2 separate regions of the Homo sapiens genome follow, and region 1 is linked to region 2. The links come from fine-mapping of genetic effects on gene expression. A gene starts in region 2. The other region holds a variant in brackets. All regions are shown on one strand. Distances are from middle to middle. Region 1 overlaps NSUN2 (NOP2/Sun RNA methyltransferase 2). Region 2 holds the start of NSUN2 (NOP2/Sun RNA methyltransferase 2).

The links. PIP is the estimated chance that this variant, and not a neighbour inherited with it, causes the effect.
Region 1: its variant is fine-mapped to the expression of NSUN2 in whole blood (INTERVAL, PIP above 0.99).

The regions. Positions count from the first base shown.
Region 1 is chr5:6,595,238-6,605,052 of GRCh38, forward strand. NSUN2 (NOP2/Sun RNA methyltransferase 2) reads right to left here. Exons shown (of 19, transcript NM_017755.6): 16 at 9,368-9,448; 17 at 8,901-9,039; 18 at 7,224-7,263; 19 at 4,002-4,995. The coding sequence ends at 4,689. Among named protein-coding and RNA genes, the nearest start is that of LINC01018, 18 kb to the left of the region's middle. The variant C/T (reference allele first, on the strand shown) is at 4,693.
Region 2 is chr5:6,627,185-6,636,765 of GRCh38, forward strand. NSUN2 (NOP2/Sun RNA methyltransferase 2) reads right to left here and starts at 5,860. Exons shown (of 19, transcript NM_017755.6): 1 at 5,700-5,860; 2 at 5,415-5,572; 3 at 4,689-4,793. The coding sequence starts at 5,795. It overlaps SRD5A1 (steroid 5 alpha-reductase 1), which reads left to right and starts at 6,256. Exons shown (of 5, transcript NM_001047.4): 1 at 6,256-6,685. The coding sequence starts at 6,393. RefSeq lists enhancers at 5,956-6,467, 6,468-6,979 and a silencer at 6,103-6,492.

The DNA of each region.
Region 1 (9,815 bases), 32 kb before region 2:
ACAGACTAATACAGTGCTTTTGTATTTTTAAAGTTAACATCTCTCAAGAAGTGGGTTGACTCAAGCCTCAACTAGGGCAGGATCTGTTTCCAAGCTCATGTATGGGGTTGTTGGCTGGATTAGGGTCCAAGGCAGTTGCTGGACTAAGGGCCTCAGTTCCTTGCTTTTCCAATGCTGCACTTAATTCATTGCAGTAAGGCAGGTGTGAGGACTTTACCCAGCAGGCCCAAGGCCACTCTCCCTAAAAAGGCCTGAATGCAAGACTGGCCCTTAGTTGGCCTCTGGGAACCTGGATTTTGGGAGTGTTCCCAACATCCCAACGGGTAAGAGTGGTTCAATGTGCCTAAACTGTTTATGCAAACAATACACTGAGTGCCTGCTTTCCCTGCGGGAGTCTGGAATGTTGGAGGTGCCAGACAGGTGCCCACATGACCCCTGTAAGCTCCCTGAGCACTGAGTCTTTAATGAGCTTCCCTGAAAGACAACACTTTGCATGTGTAATCACAACTCACTGGGTCAATCAAGTCTGTCCTGTTTGATTCCTCTGGGAGAGGACTCTCGGAAGCCTGCACCTGTTTTTTTCTAGATGTTACCCCATGTGCCTTTCCCTTTGCTGCAGTCACAAGCCTTTTGTGTAATACATCATAGCAGAGTAGGACTAGGTGCTGAGTCCTGGGAGTCTTCACCAAACCCACGGGTGGGTCTTGGGAACCCCGACACAGCACAAGAGTATCACCAACAAGATGGAAGTCAGAGTCTTCTGTATAATCTCATTGGAAGTTTTGCCCCATCGTCATTCTATACATCAGAAGCAAGTCACAAGGTGCAGCCCACACACACAGGAGAATGCACCAGGACATGAACCCCAGAGGCGGGGGTCAAAGGGGCTGTTGTGGAGGCACACAGGCCACCGCGGCAGAGCCAGGAGTCAAGCCCCTCACCCTCCACCCCAGGCTGTGCAGCATTCGTTGAAGTGAGCGAGAACAGAGACGTCCCAAACCCACTTCCTGAGAAGTGCTCTGGGAATGGAGTGCCATTTGCTAGGGTGAAGCGCGTGTATACACAATCCCAGACTTGCGGATGCCCATTAATAATTTTGTCCTCTGGGCTCACAGAGATACAGATATCTCTTTCGCAGCACTTATTCACTACTCACTTGTTAACTGAATAGAGCTAAGATTACCATGTTTTAATAGAGAGGGCCCCTGACTTACAATTCTCAACGCATGATTTTTTGGCTTTATGATGGTAGGAAAGCAACACATATTCAATAGAAACTGTACTTTGGATTTTGATCTCTACCTGGGCTGGTGATCTGTAGTCGATATCCTTGTGATGTGGGGCAATGGCCGAGTTGCTCCAACAGCCATACGATCACAAGGGTAAACAACCAACCCTCTGCAGGGGACTGTGTTGCCAGATGATTTTCCCAACTGTAGCATGGAAGTGTTCTGAGCATGCTGAAGGTAGTCTAGGTGTACTTAATGCACTTTGATGTAGGACATTTTCAACTAATGCTGGGCTTATCAAGACATAATCCCATCGTAAGCTGAAGAGCATCTGTATTTAAAATCTCCTTGTTAACACTGGCCAGCCCACATAGATGCCCTCCTCAGAGGCAACCAAAACTGTCAATTTCTTCTGTATCCTTCCAGTTACTTTACATAAATTCAAAAGCACATGTCTCCAAGCCTGTGTATTTTCCCCCTGTACACAATGGCAGCAGAATGCACATTCTTCTCTACACCTTGCGTTTCTTTCTTGGTGGTCACTGGACTCCAGGACACAGCGAGCTGCTTCAGCCCCTTTGCTGGCCAGTGTCCACGTGGGGGCTCTGCACCATTGGTGTCCCAGTGCCTCGTCATTGATGCTGAGGGCTTCCAGGTTTCTGCTATTAACAACATTGCATCAAATGACTCTGCAGACACATTTGACTCATCTGTGGGCCTGTGAAGTGGACTCGCTGGCTCAAAGTTGTCCTTCTTTTTAGGAAATTTATTTTATTCATCTACTCAACAGGTACGTCAAAGTTCAAAGGAAACAAAGAGTTTTCAGTAAAAAGTTTTTCTCCCATTTAAGCACCCCCACCAGAAGGCAACCACTACTCCCAACCTATGGGGCTGGCTACTTCAGAGAGGCCCTCATCAGAGACAACCCTGCTGGGTGGAAGCGAAAACTCCTTCAGCTGATGTCTTTTCTTCTGCCGTGCACTCTTCGGGAATCGGAAGACCCTTACCAAAATGCTGATTAAAGTTAGAGAAAGAAAATCCTCCATGTTAGGAGCAGTCTTCTCTTGAATGTTTCCTCAGGCTTATCCATACACCATAATAACTGTCCACCTTATTTATCAATTTTTAAGTTTTCTTCTCCCTGTGTGGTCTGTACTTGCTAGCTGCTATTCTGTTGTCTTTGACCCCTACATCCATCCAACACTGGAGGCTGCTCTGTGTCTGGTTACCCGGGGTTGCCTATTCTGACAAGGCAAGGTGCTCACAGGCAGTGCTGAGTGTGGGAGTGACTCCTCGCTTTGAGCGTCGCTACAGGGTGATAAGAGTGGGCTACTTCCCAGGAACCCTAAGGCCGCTATCTTTACGGCTTCTTTGAAGCTAGACAGTTTCCCCAGAGAAGCATCTTTCAACAATCCCCTTCTGTAGACCAAGATCTCACTGCCCTAAAAGTTCTGGGGGCTGAGGGAGGAGAAAGATGCTGAGAGCACTAAACCCATCCCCACACACCTGTGTGGCCCCCAGGTCCCCACCGTGCCCGGTGTCCCCAGTCCAGGGCCTGGACCAGCAAGTAGGATAAAGCACTGAAACTGACTGGAAACAGTTCCCACTGGCCAATGCCGGGACAATCTGAGAACCAAAATAAATGACAGTAATAATAAATAAATAACTGAATAAAACAGAATCCTTGAATCCGTACTGACAGAAAATGAATCAAGAAGCAAACAAAGGACAGAGGAGTGCTTATTCTATGTAATGAGAACTAATAATGTAGAAGTGATGAAAAATGGGGGAAAACAATTTGTAGCTGTCACAGTAAAAACTGGCTCAGGCAAATTATCAAGAAATACTAAAGCTGGCAGTTAAAAGTTTGATGAGAGAGAGGAATATAGTCTTGAAATGTCTCCTTGCACAATACTTACAAATTTTTCAGTGGAGAAACTTGGCAGACAGATACCATGTTACTAATAATAAAACAAACTTCACCACCACTATAAAGAGAAAACCCAACATCGTCAGCCTCCTGGCATGACGCAGCGAGAACACAGCACCACCTCTGTGGTCCTCCTGTCAAAAACGCACACATCACAGGGACACTTCAGACCAACCAAAACTGAAGCACATTCAGACTACCTGACCGGTACCCTGCAAGACTGTCTCAATCATAAAAGACAGACTGGGAACTGTTTCTGACGGTAGTGAACTCGAGACAAGACAGCCAAAGGCAACTGGTGTCACCCCAGACAAAATTGGACATTGTGACTGCAAAGGACATTACTGGGCCGCTGGAGCGAGCTTGCTGGTTTGAGGGTGACCTGCATCCACGTTTCTGACGCCTATGCTGCGAGCTGTAAAGAGGGCCTCTGTTTCCAGGAAACACCACAGGAGCAAGGGGGTAACGGAACACGTCTGTAACTTACTGTCAAAGGGTTCAGAAAACAATGAGTGACATGCAAGCACACCAGAGGATGCAAATGCAAATGTAGAGAAATGTTCAGTGGAGAATGTGGGCGAAAGAGAAATAGGAGCTCTTCACGCCACAGAGCTTGAAAGTATTCCACAGTGGAGACTCCAGAGACAAATCCACCAAAGGCAGTGTGTGGTCGGTGTTTGTACAGACCAACACACAAAATGAGGTAGACAGGAAGACAGCAGCCTTCACAGTAAAACCGCTTTCACTAGAGAAAATAAGGATGTATTCTAACACTGCCATTTAGCCAAAAGTAAGTTTGTTCTTTCTGCTTCCTAAGAGCAAAAACAGGAATCACACATGTATATATTTTATCAATTTTATTGAAATATTCCAAGGATCCCAACCCCATTTAAAAATAAAAATTGTAAAGCACTCCATTCAATAAAAGCACATAAGTCCCCCTCAATAATTAGTATGACAATTCACGATACAGCTCTTACTCTGGGAGAGTTTATTTTACCCTTTATTCCAAAAGGCACAAAGTCATCTGAGGCCTCAGATATTAACCCCACTGCATGTTAATGACACACCACTGAGGTGCAGCTCAATGTAATTATTAAAGCTTATAACACACTTCCCCAAGAATTTATAGATTCTTTCTATAAATAATAATTTAAAAAATACTGCACCTTAAGACCAATACAGGCTTAACAAAAGACCTGAAATTTCTGCAAGGGCAGTTTTGTTTCTTGATAGAAGTACAACTTTTGAAAGTCTATTCCCAGCAAAAGAAACACTAGACCCAGCTTGGCCAAAGAAACAAAATAAAACAAGTGATTTCTAACACGCTAAAAGAGTACATTTTCATCAGCTCCAAAGAAAGCAGTCCTGGTCATTCAGAAGGCTCCTATGATCCCACCAGTCTGCAGTCATTAGAAATATATGCTTTACAGGCCACAGGCTGCTCTGGATTTGGTTTCAGACACCAGTGACCAGAAGAAGCCAGTTTTGCGTGTGAGGGGTGTGGGCCCCCGCTGCCTTGGGCCTGCTCAC[C/T]GGGGTGGATGGACCCCCGCCGGGTCACAGCCTGCTGTCACGTCTGGACTGTTGGCCTCTTCTGCATCTGGGCTGTTGGGCTCTCCTGCTCTCTGTCCCTCAGTCACGTCATTGTCTGGCTGTCCGGTGCTGGCTGCACTCTCATTTGTGAGGATAACCCCTTCCTTCTTCTTTTCTCCCAATACCTCCAGCCCCATCATCCTGAGATAATGAAGCCGTTCATTCTTGGGCACAAAAGTTCGAATGGAGGCCTTTCCCCGCCATCCGCATAAGACGATGGGACACTGCAGAGCGTCTGGATTCCTACAAGTGAAAGTGGCTTCATGTAGAACATTAAACATTCCCATAACTAAATCGAATGAGATGTAATATGCAACTGCTTAAAAAAGAAAACCACAGAAAACCCATACCCACAAAACCCCCAAAACTACTGGGAGGACATTTCATCTGGATCCGAGGGGTAGGTTTTCTCAAAGGACTTCCTTCTTCATGTCCTGAGTAAAATTCTCACCCTCGCTTTCGCCCTGCCTCTTTAAGTTCACAATGGAGTAGAGGCCCCAAATCTACAGATTTCACATACACTTTCTACATACTTCCTTCTCAAACTTAACTTACTGTCCCCGCCACCCCGTGTCACCTCACCCCACTAAATGAGAAGCGTTTCTCCACAGGCTCCCTGCAGCTCACCTCAAGTTTCCTAAGTGGACTGAAGCTCCTGAGAGGCTGGGAGACTCTGCCCTTAGCAGGGCGTCAGAGCAGGACCCAGGACCACCGGGAGACTCTGCCCTTAGCAGGGCTGCCAGAGCAGAACCCAGGACCACTCATCCTTTTGATACTCAGTGTTAGCGTGATTTCTTCTCCAGGGACCCCACATGGCAGTCTGAGCCCTGCTGGGCACACAGTGCTCATTTCCGTTCCCAGCATGCAGTGTTACCCACAGTCAAAAACATCCCTGCCTCTCTGAACATGCTCCGAGCCTCCCTACCTTCCAGGCTCCACCTGTCCAGCCAGGAGGCATCGACGCCCCAGCAGAGATGGACGCCACCATTTCCAACCTGCACACGCCCTCTCTCAACTTATCTGATTTCTTTCATACGGGACTCTGACCTAGATTTTAGGCTCCTAACGGCCGTGTTTAATCACCTTTCCATTTTTCCTAATGTAAAGCAGGGGCACAAAGGTGGTTTTAAGAAGTGAGAGGAAAATATAAGAAATTCCCAACTCCCATCTTCTTAAAAAAAAAAAACCATTATTCCTGAAGTTGACCTGTCACCTGTGTATTTCACCAAGTAGAAACAAGTGTTTAAATATGGAAAAGTGAATCCACACCTTAAAATATCCCAATATTTTCTATGTGGGCCACATGGGACTGTTATTTTAAAAACCATTTCTGAGTCTTTGTTCAAACTCTCGTTAAAAACACCCAGAAGCCATCAATCACTAGATGCTCCTGCCCGTTCACCATCCAGACACCATCCGCCTCCAGCAGGTCCCCAGGGTGCTCATGCGCTCGGCCTCGCTGACCTCTCCAGCCCATCCATCTGTTGTTCCCTCACCAAGTTCCTGCCCCTCCCACCTCAGCCCCCACCTGTCCTCTCTCCACATGGCAGCCGGACAGCCTGAACCCTGAGGACATGTGGCCCCTCGGCCTCCCTGCCAACCTCTTACCTATCCCTCCTCCTTCCCTACTTGGCTGGGCCCGCCCCGACCCCCAGCTTGCACCTGCCTCAGGATCTGCGCTTTGGTGGTTCCTTCAAGTTAGCACTGGATCCCTGGTCCAACACTAACTTCCCAAAGAAATCTGTACAGTGGTTCTACCTATTCACTCCCCCAAATCCCAGTCAGCCGTGGACCCCATTCTGTTTCCTCCTCTCAGAAATGGTGTTGCATGTCACCAAGACGGAGCTGTTGCAGGTGAGATCCGAATTCTGCCACTCGTGAGCTGAGGAGCTCTGGGCAAGCCACCTAACTTTCTGTCCCGGCTTCCTCCTCTGGCAAGTGCTGCCAAAACCAGCACCTGCTCCCCCAAGGCCCCCCACAAGGATGCAGCGTGAATACATGCAAGCAGCGTGGAGCAGTGGTCCCGTGGGGACCGTGAGTGCAAGCGTGAGCAAATCCCATGCTCCGGCCCTAGCACTCCTGATGCAGTAACATGTCAGCAACACACATGGCTGAACCAGCCATGAGGACAAAAGAACGGAACCTCACTCAACTGTCCAATCTTCACACTTACTCTGTACAAGACAGAAATTTTCATTGGTTTCTAATGCTTAAAAAATAAGTACTATGCATTTTATTCTCTGTAAGTAAAAATTCACTTAGCCTGAGCTGAGTGTTCTATGAAACAGCATCTTCATGATGACCTACAGGAATATTTTGGTTCTGAAGTTTTCACAAGGCTACTTCTGAGGAACAATCACAAAAGGCCTGAAGAAGGTTCCCACCTTCCCAAGTCACTTTCCTCACCAACGAGAACACTGTAGCTAATGACAAGGCGTGTGTGTCTAAGGGCAGGGCGTGTACTGACTTACGCAGAATCTGGTTCATACTTCAGCACGATGCTTCCCTTTGCTGGAAAAGAAACAGACACACATTTGCCAGGTTTTCCAGGTAGTGGATGCATGCGCTGAGCACATTTCTGCACCTAGTGATGTGTTAAGTATTCTGAAGAAAGAAAACAACAAATAATCTACATTCTTGGCTTCAAGGATCTAGATGGTGAAAAGAGGCCGTCTGGATACATGAACCAAGTCCAAATGACGCAGTAGGGACGATCTGGAAGAGGACCCAGGCAAAAGCCATTCAGGGACTTCAAGGGATGTCACCTGACAATCCACTCTGAGAAGCAAGGAGGCTGGGGATTAACTGCTGGTTAATTCTTCAAAATTCAAAATTAAATAAACTATAACACCAACTCCCAGAATGGCATGAAATACATAAAAATTGTCTAAAACAATACTGCAATCATCTAAGTGCAGGATTAAAAGAAAACCAGTATAAACAGGTCCTTTATCCTTTACAAGAATCTCTACTTTAAATTGTGGTTCTTGCCTGGAGACGGCAGTGGGAGACAGACTCCACAGAGCATGTTTTATATCCCAAAGGAACCACACGAGTAAGTTTTAAACGCAAGTAAGAAACGTAACTGCAAGAAGTGATTCACGTACTTTTGATCAAATTGAGCCAAAAATATTAAACAGCAAGTTATTTAAAAAAATAAACAAGAATGAAGACAACAGAAAGAAAATTAGAACAGCTTGGAGAAATGATTTTTATGCTTAGGGGAAAACGTCACTGGAGTGATCTGAAGTGGAAGTTGATGAAATATAAAAGCAGCAATATGACCAATAATCTACTCCAGCTGGCTAGCAGAAAAGTCAGAACTGCTGGCAAGACTCTTATTTTGCTCTAACACAGGTGATTAAAATCTGCATGTTAGCCAGTCTCGTGAGGCTGTGTACCTTAAAAAACAAATTTACTGGCTGGGCGCGGTGGCCCACGCCTGTAATCCCAGCACTTTGGGAGGCTGAGACAGGCAGATCACAAGGTCAGGAGATTGAGACCATCCTGGCTAACACGGTGAAACCCCGTCTCTACTAAAAATACAAAAAATTAGCTGGGCGTGGTGGCGGGTGCTTGTAGTCCCAGCTACTTGGGAGGCTGGGGCAGGAGAATGGCTGAACCTGGGAGGCGGAGCTTGCAGTGAGCCGAGATCGTGCCACTGTACTCCAGCCTGGGTGACAGAGCGAGACTCTGTCTCAAAACAAAAAAAGAAAAAAACAAATTTGCTCATGCACAGAGACCTGCTTCCACCCACCCCCGACCTGCTGACAGGCAAGTGGGTCAAGAGCTCTGGCTGGGAGGCTTGCCAGGGCTGCTCACAGGCTGACCCCTCCTCTCCCCGGACTCTCTGGCCCAGCAAGGTGAGCAAAGGCCAGCCCTGCACGCCACACAGACACACCACAGGCTGCTGGGCAGCAGCAGGGCACCACCAGAGCCTGGGGAAGTACACCAACCCCAAGATGCCTTTGACCCTTAGCATTCTGAACTGTCAATCAGGGATCTACAGAACCCTCTGGAAATTGATGTAGCCATAAATAAACTGAAAACTATGATTGATAAATATGCCCCAACGCACACCACCTGCATTTTTGCTGGCCTTATAAAGGGAATACAAGTTATGTCTCTATGCATTTCCAACTACTCACCCAGGTCCTTTGCTTGACTGTAGGTCTCACTGCTGAGTTTTCTAAAAAAGGGATTTTCCTGGGTCAACAGTATCTTAACATCTTCCATTGATACAGTAATAATTCTTGAGTTAATAAATGGATACAATGTATATATTCCCTGTGTGAATAAAGAGAATGAGAGAACAGATACCATGATGTCATTCATGAACGACAACAGCCTGCTCTCAGGGGCTATGCTCTTAGCGGCTATGGTGGTCGAGCCCTCACTATGGCCCCTCCCCTTGGACAGGTGTGGAACCCACCCCCCCCTAGGAGGGGAAACCAGCACTCTGGGAGAGCTCTATAACCTGTGAGGGTCAAGTGGCTGGTAGGTGCCAGCCAAGCCCTGAGCCACTCAGACCATCTGGCTGACCAGCAAGCCCATCTACTCCCGACTGCTTCAGTCATCTGTGGCTACTGCTGTTCAAATCCACTTCCAAAATTACCTCCTGTGCCAGCCGGAAAGCACAGTCAAACTCTTCACCGCTGTTATTTCTACACCAGACTTTGATCCCCGTGTTAATAACCTGTAAGTAAAAAAATAAGATGAAACACAGAGAGATGAAGACAGGACCATCTCCTGTAAGGATGCCGGGCCACATGGAGCAACCGTCACGGAATGGGAAAGGAGAGGAGAAGCAGAAACCCACCGAGAAACCCCGGTTAAGAACGAACTGATACTCACAACTTGTGATTACGTCGTTTGGAGGACAGTAAAGCAAATGAAAGAAGGGCCCCCAAATGGCCAAATTCTAAGGGAAGTACCTCAAAGGACAAATCCCAAGGGTCGGGGCAGCAGTACTCGCAGCCTCTACACCTTTAGTACCTTCTCTGCCCAGGAGGGCGAGCTGTGAGAACTACACCATGGCTCACCCCCCTGCGGGAATGGGGCAC
Region 2 (9,581 bases):
ATAAGGCAATTTTAAAAAGAATTGTTTTAAATAATCTTTTGGACTCATTAGAGGCGAAATAGTAGGTTACATGCAAATTTGGCATTTGCTATAGTATTGGGCAAATATCTGCTGTGCCACTGTAACCTCTACTTGCAAACAGCCAAATGCCAGCTCATATAGTATCTGGTCTTCCTGAACTTGTCTGTCTCAAAGCTAGTACGATCATGTAAGTTATTGCCTTACCAAATCACTAAGACATCAATATGAACACCACATGCCATTTAGACTTATTGTAAAGAGCTGAATTTTCATTTTCAAATATAGATAAGCAGTCTAGATATACTTTGAACAAATATAGCCTTATATGTCTTTTTCGTCAAATTTCTGATAGTCAAAATGTAAACGTACTATTACAAGATTAAAATTCTACAGTATTTATAATTGTGAAGGCTGTTGATCTCATGTAAAGAAACATTTAGGAACTCTGAAATATTTAAATACAAACAGAAACTAACAGATAAATGTTTATTTCCTCTGGGTACAGAGAACAGCCTGGGCAACAAAGCGAGGCCCTGTTTCTACAAGAAATGTTTTTAAATTATGTTTCTTATACAGCTTTAGGAACAGCATCATCTTTTTATGAACCAAAAAATGTTTATTAAATCTTTGTAGATTTTAACATCAAACAAAATGAGAGGTATATTTAATTTTTAGTTACTTACTTCAAATTTAGCTTGTGTCTTTTAAGAAAAAATCCTATTTGGGCTTTTTAGAGGATAAGTTAAAAGGACCACTGTCATCTTTGCATATTAAAAATTCTCAAGTGGTAAGGACTCTGTAAATATATACAACATCTATGACAAACCATCCTCAATCTAGACATTAAAAAGCACGTAACAGGCGAGGTGCAGTGGCTCATGCCTGTAACACCAGCACTTTGGGAGACCAAGGTGGGCGGATCACTTGAGGTCAGGAGTTCAAGACTAGCCTGTCCAACATGGCAAAACCCCAACTGTACAAAAAATAGAAAAAATAGCTGGGTATGGTGATGGGGGCATGTAATCCCAGCTACCTGGGACGCTGAGGTGGGAGGATCACCTGAGCCCAGGAGGTGGAGGTTGCAGTGAGCTGAGATCATGCCACTGCACTCCAACCTGGGCAACAGAGACCTTGTCTCAAAAAAAAATATAAGTAAACAGCACATAAATAGAATGATAATAAGGTGCACTCTGAACAATTGGTTGTCAAAACAATGCTTCTATAAGAATGCTTTAGGATAATTTCTCATTGTTCTGAGTCTATGGAAAGTAAGAAAAAAATGAAACTGGCCCAAGCTATGGTCCTATACATAACTTTCCTTCTAGAAAATGTAATTTCAAAAAACGTTTTCCTAAATTATATTTCACTATGTACCAGAGGATTGGGAAGAATATTACATGATCTATTCCTGCATCTTGAGCAATACAGAAAATTACCAGAAGTCCTGGAAAGCTTCTGCTTTACTTGCTTGCTGAGAGATTTAGTACCCTAAAACTGACAGATGAATTTGAATAAATAAATGTTTAGAGAATACAGCTGCCAAGAAACTGGCATTGGCCAGGAATGGTGGCTCATGTCTGTAATCCCAGCACTTTGGGAAACCAAGGCAGGAAGATTGCTTGAGCCCTGGAATGCAAGACCAGCCTGGGCAACAAGGTGAAACTCCATCTCTACAAAAAAATAAAAAAAATTAGCCAGGCGTGGTGGCATGCACCTGTAGTCCGAGCTACTCAGGAGGCTGAGGTGGGAGGATCACTTGAGCCTAGGAGGTCAAGGCTGCAGTGAACCGTCATGACATCACTGCACTCCAGCCTGGGTGACAGAGTGAGACCCTGTCTCAAAATAAAATATAGAGAAACCATCATTGATAATGGAAAAAGCCAAATATTAGAAACCCAGATCTACAATGTTTTGTTCATACCCTTCAGCTGTGTGTTCAGAAAATTAAAGCAAACAAAAACATAGCTGGCTGTTGGCAGAGAGCAATTCACCTTCATTCTTCAACTACAGACAACCTGCAGATTCTAAGAGTTTGGTAATTACCTTGTCATATACCCAGACACATTGTTAAACAAGGTGGAAAAGCAGCTATGAAATGTTAAAAGGGCTGATCAAATCCAAGTGTAACTGTAGTTTGCAGAGAATAATAAAAAACTAGCAAGCCTTATTGACATCGTATGGTTTCTCCTAGTTTGTTGGAGCCTGCAGAAGAAAATGCCCACATGGAGGTGCCTTAAGAGCACACCTCTTCCCTATAGACACATGCTGAAACGTTCCTCCTGGACAGGAACTTCTTCATCTTAAAAGCATTTCTTATCCCGTCTCTGCGCTTCTAAACACAAGGTTTTAGAAACAAATGTTTCCAGGTGATTGTGTGAAGCAGCACATACATGCATCACTGCTAAAAATACAAACATGCCCGAGGAGAATCGTAATCCTGTCTTCTTAAAATATTTTAGATGGTTTGGCTCTGTGTTCCCACCCCAATTTCACCTTGAATTGTAATATTCCCCACGTGTCAAGGGCAGGACGAGGTGGAGATAATTAAATCCCCGGGCCGTTTCCCTCATGTTGTTCTCACAACAGTGAGTTCGTTCTCAGGGGGAGATCTGATGGTTTATTAGGGGCTTCTTCCTTTGCTCAGCACTCATTCTCTCTCCTGCCACCCTGTGCAGAGAGATCTTCCGCCATGATTTTAAGCTTCCTGAGGCCTCCCCGGCGATGTGGAAATGTGAGTCAATTAAGCCTATTTCCTTTATCTATACATTACTCAGGTATGTCCTTATAACAGTGTGAAAATGGACTACTACAGTATCAGACCTCTACTTCAAGTACAACACAATCAGTGTCGTCAATCAAATCTTCAAACCAAACGACTTGAGCAAAGTCTACAACCTAGTTACCAGGAGGAAGAAAAGCTTGATCTCGTGAAGGTTACCTCATCTCAGCAATGCCATAACTAGAGGCTGAAAAACATCTACCTTTTCCACTGATCTCACTACAGTGGACAATTAGTGACCACTAACAGCAACGTAGCACCCGTATCATTTTCCTATACTGTACCCTTCAAGCTTTTAAAAATCTAAGATGTGGCATATCTATTCTTTTTTCCCTTTTTGAGACATGGTCTCGCTCTGTGGCCCAGGCTGGAGTGCAGTGGCATGATCTTGGCTTACTGCAACCTCCACCTCCTGGGTTCAAGCGATTCTCATGCCTCAGCCTCCCTAGTGTCTGGGATTACAGGCGTGTGCCACCATGCCTGTCTAATTTTTGTATTTTTAGTAGAGATAGGGTTTCACGATGTTGGTCATATTTATTCCTATATCCCAGCAACACATTCCATGATGGTGATATTCGGTCTTGATACTGGTTGAATACTGACTTAATGTTTGGCCAGTCAGCATTCATTGTGAATGTATATGCTTATCTGTGATAGGGACAATGAAAATCCAAATAGCCAATGAAAGAAAAACAAGCAAATCTGTACCCCATGATTAATGAAAATCTGACCTTGATTTGCGAACACTAAAGGTTATCCAAAAAGGAAAGATAACACTACGTACTGGAATAGTCAAAACCTCAAAAGTTGATGCAAAACGCTTAATTTGGCAGGGCGCAGTGGCTCACGCCTGTAATCCCAGCACTTTGGGAGGCCGAGGTGGGCGGATCATGAGGTCAGGAGATGAGACCATCCTGGCTAGCAAGGTAAAAACCCGTCTCCACTAAAAATACAAAAAAATTGGCCGGGCGTGGTGGCGGGCACCTGTAGTCCCAGCTACTCGGGAGGCTGAGACAAGAGAATGGCGTGAACCAGGGAGGTGGAGCTTGCAGTGAGCCAAGATGGTGCCACTGCTCTCCAGCCTGGGCGACAGAGTGAGACTCCGTCTCCAAACAAACAAACAGACAAACAAAAAACGGCTTAATTCACCTTTTCGTGCATTACTTTTCTGAGAACTCAATACCTCAAAGTTAATAATAACGACTTTCCCACTTATGTAAGTTAACTGAAGGACTGGCGCCTCCGGAGTTCTCCAAGCATCTTTACAAGATGCTATCAGCACAAGGGATCACCTTCATACAACTGAGACTAGAACCGAGCCATGAGGAATAGGTAACCCAGAAGGCACCTCCAGGACAGGTCAAGAAAGAGGTAGCTCCCAGAGTAGTAGCACGCTTGGGTGCTGAGACTCGGAAATGCTACATTGGCTGGTGCAGTCTGTACTGCGAAGTACCAGGAGACAACCTGACAGCAGACAGTGGTAACCTGTCTGTAATGGAAAACACTAAGAGACTACCTACCAGGAGACTGTTGTCAAGCTAAGTCTGTCCTTTTTCTGAAGGCAAAGCAGCCACTCTGCAACAGTTTTGATGTGAGAAAACAAGGGCTGTAAAAGGGAGCTGGCGGAAGTGGTGACATAAAGGAAGAGGCTGGATGTACTAGGAAGAGCTGGCTGAAATCAGTGACTCATAAAGCTGCAAATCGCAAATCGCATGAAAACTTGCGTAGCAATATAATGTTGATAAAAGCACCAGGTACTAGAACATTAGGATGTTTGCAAAGTATACCCAAGCTCTTTAACAGCAAATGCAGTACCAAGAAATATAATTCAAGTGATAGAGATTAATATCCCAAATAAATATTCGGCATGAAGCACTGTGGTACCTACCAACTCAGTGGCTGTGGAACTTCAACTTTCTGACCGTCCACCTCCAGGTCCTCCAATTCCTTAAAATATTTGTTCTTTAAGCAATGGAGAATCTCTTTTGCGTGGCTATTGAAAAATAAGGAAGTTTCAAACTGATCTAAAAAACTAAGTTAATACATTGTATCTTCTTAAATTTAAGACTGCAAGTGTTTTAAAACTAAAACCAACTTTTGCATGGAGAGTAAACATTCTTTAGTCACTACTTTTACACTGTATGCCTTCAAAATTTAAGCAATCCACACTGTTTGAGCCCTAAGAGCAACACTGCATTCCTTCTCTCCTAAGCATATCCTACCGTTAAGTTTTACTTGCGACTCATTTAGAAAGATGTAACTACAAAGATGGAGGGGGGGCGCGGAGGAGGGGAGAACCAAGGGGTTTTATGCATTCTCTATAAATTCTCTTACGTTCCAAAAGGTAAGACCCTCAGCTTCCCTCCTGGAAGATTCCCCAGGAGCCGAATCTTCCTCAGATCTCATTTTCATTTCGTCTTCTAACCTTGCGCCTGCAATACCTCCGTGACCATTTCATTGGACCCTGTGCTCCCCACCTCAATGCTTCCTGAATCCAAACCGCTGAAACGCCACGGTTCTCTGGCACTGTAACACTTGTCGAAGAAAACACCGTCGCCTTTAACCTCCAGCATCCTGGCCCCAACTCCCAAAAAATCAGGCACTGCCTCCCTACCTTTTGTAACCAGTAATTCTTAAAGTGGCCGGGAGCGGCTCCCTGAGAGCGTCCATGAACTGGCCCCACTCGCCCTCGGGCACGATCTTGAGCTCCTGGTAGTAGTGCTCGAACAGCTTGTTCTCCTTGACGATCTCGGGGTAGCCTCCTTCCCAGCCCTGAGGAAGGAAAGAGACGTCTACCCCGAGGCCCAAGGAGCCGCCCCCTCGCCGCCGCCTCGCAGGCCTCGGGGTCCGGGAAGCCCAGGAGGAGCCCCTGGCCCGCCCGCCGGGTCCCGGCTCCTACCGCCTCGCCGCGCTTTCCACCACCCTCGGCGCCATCCTCCGCGTCCTCCGGCCGCTGCTGTTGCTGGAGCCGCCGACCCCGCGACCGCCGCCCCATAGCCCACGCGGCCGCGCACGCAGCACGCAGAAACCGGCCCGCCACGGCCAGAACTCTAGCCCTACACCTCCCGGGACTTCCGGCCGGAAACCAAGGCCCCACGTGTCCGGGCCTGGTCCTTTCGGGGACCTTTGGGGACCGTCCAGGAATAAGCCCAAAGCGCACAACCCGTCTTTCAGAAAAGCGGCGTGACAGGGAAAACAGCGAACAGCTCTAAGGGGAAAAAAATGCTCCAGGAAGCAGCCACAAAGGCGTCTCCGCGCGAAGCGCCCAGGTTTCCCACGCGGGCTCAAGGAGCTCCGCGGACAGCCTGAAGCCGCGCGTGCGCAGAGCGGCGCGGGGTTACTGCGGCCCCGGCGTGGGTGGGGCGCTTGCAGGTCCCTCCCCGCGCAAGTGCTCGCCCCGCCCCCGGGGCCGCACCCACAGCCCCGGCTACCCCGGAGAAGCCTGACTTGAGAACCCTTTCTGCAGAGTCCCGGCAGTGCGGGACTCCGGTAGCCGCCCCTCCGGTAGCCGCCCCTCCTGCCCCCGCGCCGCCGCCCTATATGTTGCCCGCCGCGGCCTCTGGGGCATGGAGCACGCTGCCCAGCCCTGGCGATGGCAACGGCGACGGGGGTGGCGGAGGAGCGCCTGCTGGCCGCGCTCGCCTACCTGCAGTGCGCCGTGGGCTGCGCGGTCTTCGCGCGCAATCGTCAGACGAACTCAGTGTACGGCCGCCACGCGCTGCCCAGCCACAGGCTCCGAGTGCCGGCGCGGGCCGCCTGGGTGGTGCAGGAGCTGCCCTCGCTGGCCCTGCCGCTCTACCAGTACGCCAGCGAGTCCGCCCCGCGTCTCCGCAGCGCGCCCAACTGCATCCTCCTGGCCATGTTCCTCGTCCACTACGGGCATCGGTAACGTCCCCGGCCCCCGGCCCCCTACCCTACTCCCGGCCCGGCGTCCTCTCCGACCCTCCCCTCACTGCCCGGTGCCCTCTCCCCGAAGCCTCCCCCACCCAGATGCCCTCTCCCTGCCAGATCCCCCGGGGCGTCCCCCATCTGCACGGGTGCCCTTCCCCGAGTCCCCCGGCCCCGGGAGTTTGGAAACCAGAAGGGATTCGTCTGGAAAGGGCGGGAAACAAAGGACTGGAAGGGAGTGATGGAAAAAAACATGATGAAACTGATCTGGAAAGAGCCACTCAGTGGTCCTAGGTTTGGTTTCCTTAGCCGGGCGCGGTGGCGCCTGTCTGTGATCCCAGTTACTCGGGAGTCTGAGATGGAAGAATCGCTTGAACCCGAGAGGCGGAGGTTACAGTGAGCCGAGATCTCGCCACTGCCCTCCAGCCTGGGTGACAGAGCGAGACTCTGTCTCAAAATTAAATATATAAAAATAAAGAGTTAAAAAGTAAAAATGTAAAATAAAAATGAAGACTAGATTTTGTTCCCTTAGATCACGACTGTGGGGGCGGGGGGGAGGGGGTTGGCCTAGAGTCTAATGCTGATGGTCGGTCTTGAGGGCCACTGGTTTCTACTCCTTTCTGCCGGTTCCCCTTTTGGTATCTTTGGTGATGGTGGAGCTGTTTTCTCCCAGCCAAGTGATCAGCTGCAACTGGAAACCTGCTGTCCTAAAACTGCCTAGCAGTTTCTCCTTATAGGCTTGATCACTTTCAGAGACTTTCATGTCCACCTTATGCAAGGGACCCCAGGATTGTGGGGGTGGAAAGCCAGCAACCTTAAACCTTAAACAAACGAAGTCTTAAAGATGACTTCTAAATCTTTCAAGGTTTTTGTTTTTTTGAATATTTGAAAACTGGCTGTGTCTGAAATCTTCAAGCCTTCTAATAAGTTGGGGTTCTCTCCAGGTCGTATCTTTTGGCTTTTACACAGCCAAAGCAAACGACAGGTCGAAAGTTCAAAATTAAATTTTAAACGTTTTCATTCAGGCTCTGGAAAGCTTCACAGTTAAAAAGGATGTCTCTACACCCAAGGAAGTTGAACTCACTGGCTGTGTGACTATGGGCAGTTTACCCAACCTTTCTGATTTGGGGTCCCACCTTAAAACACTCACTTCCCAGAGAGACAGGAAGAACTCAGTGTGTGTTTATAAGCCTCTCTTCTTTCTCCTGGTGTCATGCATTCCAGCGAAGAGAAAGTACACAGCTCCACTACTTGGAACCAGTGTTGTACCCAGCACAGTTTTTGGTACCTGAGTTCCCTGAAAACCAGCACCTTACCCTGTAACTGGTGCAGTCTGTGTCCTCAGTGTGCTTTGATGACTTGCACTTTAAACAAGGGCAAGTCAACATTCATCAGAGGCTTAGTGAGTACTGTGTGCCTGAAACTCTTTACCATTGCTTTATTTTTTTTTTGGAATGGGATCAACCATTGCTACAATTTGAATATTAGTCAGACTTTGCTGTTTGTATATACTTTTCCATAAATATACCAGAAGCTGTATGTCTGTTTCTTTATGGCTAAAAGCAATCTCAGGTCAGAGTATTCGGTGCTATCCTAGTCCCATCAGTCATGACCCTGGATGAGTTACTAAGCTGCCCCGCAGCAAGGTTTCCCCACCTGTAGAATGGGCATGGTGATGGAACCCCCCTGTGGGATCACATGAATTTAGAGCAAAGGCAACTCCCTAAAATGCTTGCATGGTGCTGGCGCATCTGCGTGCTCAGTACACAATACCTAGCACTATTTTGCATTGCTGTGAATGCACATCCAGACATGTACTCTGTGTGTCATTCATGTGCACTGCTGCCAGCCTCATGTGCCAGCAAAACTGTGGTGTTGGAAATCAAGGGAACACTTGACAAAGTTTTGCCTGACATCCCAAGTGGAAGCTTTTTAACTTGAGACATCATGTTTCATTGTACCTACATTCACTCAAGCAGAAAAATGAATGCAGCCTCCCAAAGGGCCAGAGTCACCTTGAATGATAGAACTTGAACAGCTCATTCATACAGAGTAGAACACGGAGGCACAGCATGCTGCTGTCTTCCCTGAGGCTGTTGGATAAGGAGCTGCTGGGATGAAAGCCCACTTCCTATACTAATAGTTTAAAAGCTGCTCCAAGAGGATTGGCTGGGTCAGGTATAGTTTTTTTTTTAAATTGCTAGGCTATTTTTTTTTTGAGTTGTACATGTTATTGTGTACATAGTCTATGTGGTTTGGGGACATTTACATTTTCCAAATAGAAAAGATAAACATTTTCCATTCTACCCAAGCAACTAATTTATTAAACAGTCACTTGATCTAAGTCATGAGCACTTGGAAGAGAACCAGAGTGGAAACAGCATTTAGCACTGAACACAAACCATCCCAGCAGCCCCTGGAAGCGTCCTGGAGCCCTTTATTTGCACAGGGCCCTGCAGAGAACGGAGAACACCACACCCGGTGAGAGGAGGCTGTGGGTACAAGGATGACTCTTATGAAAGGCAGGAGAAAAGTGAGCCTGAGGAGGCGCTGGCCAGGCAGAGCCAGTACCACCTTACACAACCTGACAGGTGTGCACACAGGCCCTGTGCTGACCTGTGAGGTTTCGCTGGAGTGAGGTTGGGCCCTGCCTTGGGGAACTAGAGCCTCTTTTGGGAGTGGCAAGGACCAGAGCCAGGTCCAGGGACTTTCCACAGTCCATGAGGCCTGAAGGCAGCAGCAGAGCTACAGCTCTTCCCAGAGCAACTGACTGTTCTGGGAACAATGAGTACAGGACAGTCAGGTCAAGGAGGGAGGAAAGGTGAAGGAAGGGATAGAGGGAATGGTGCGCTTTCATGTATTTATTCAGCAAACACTTAAGGAAGACTTACGT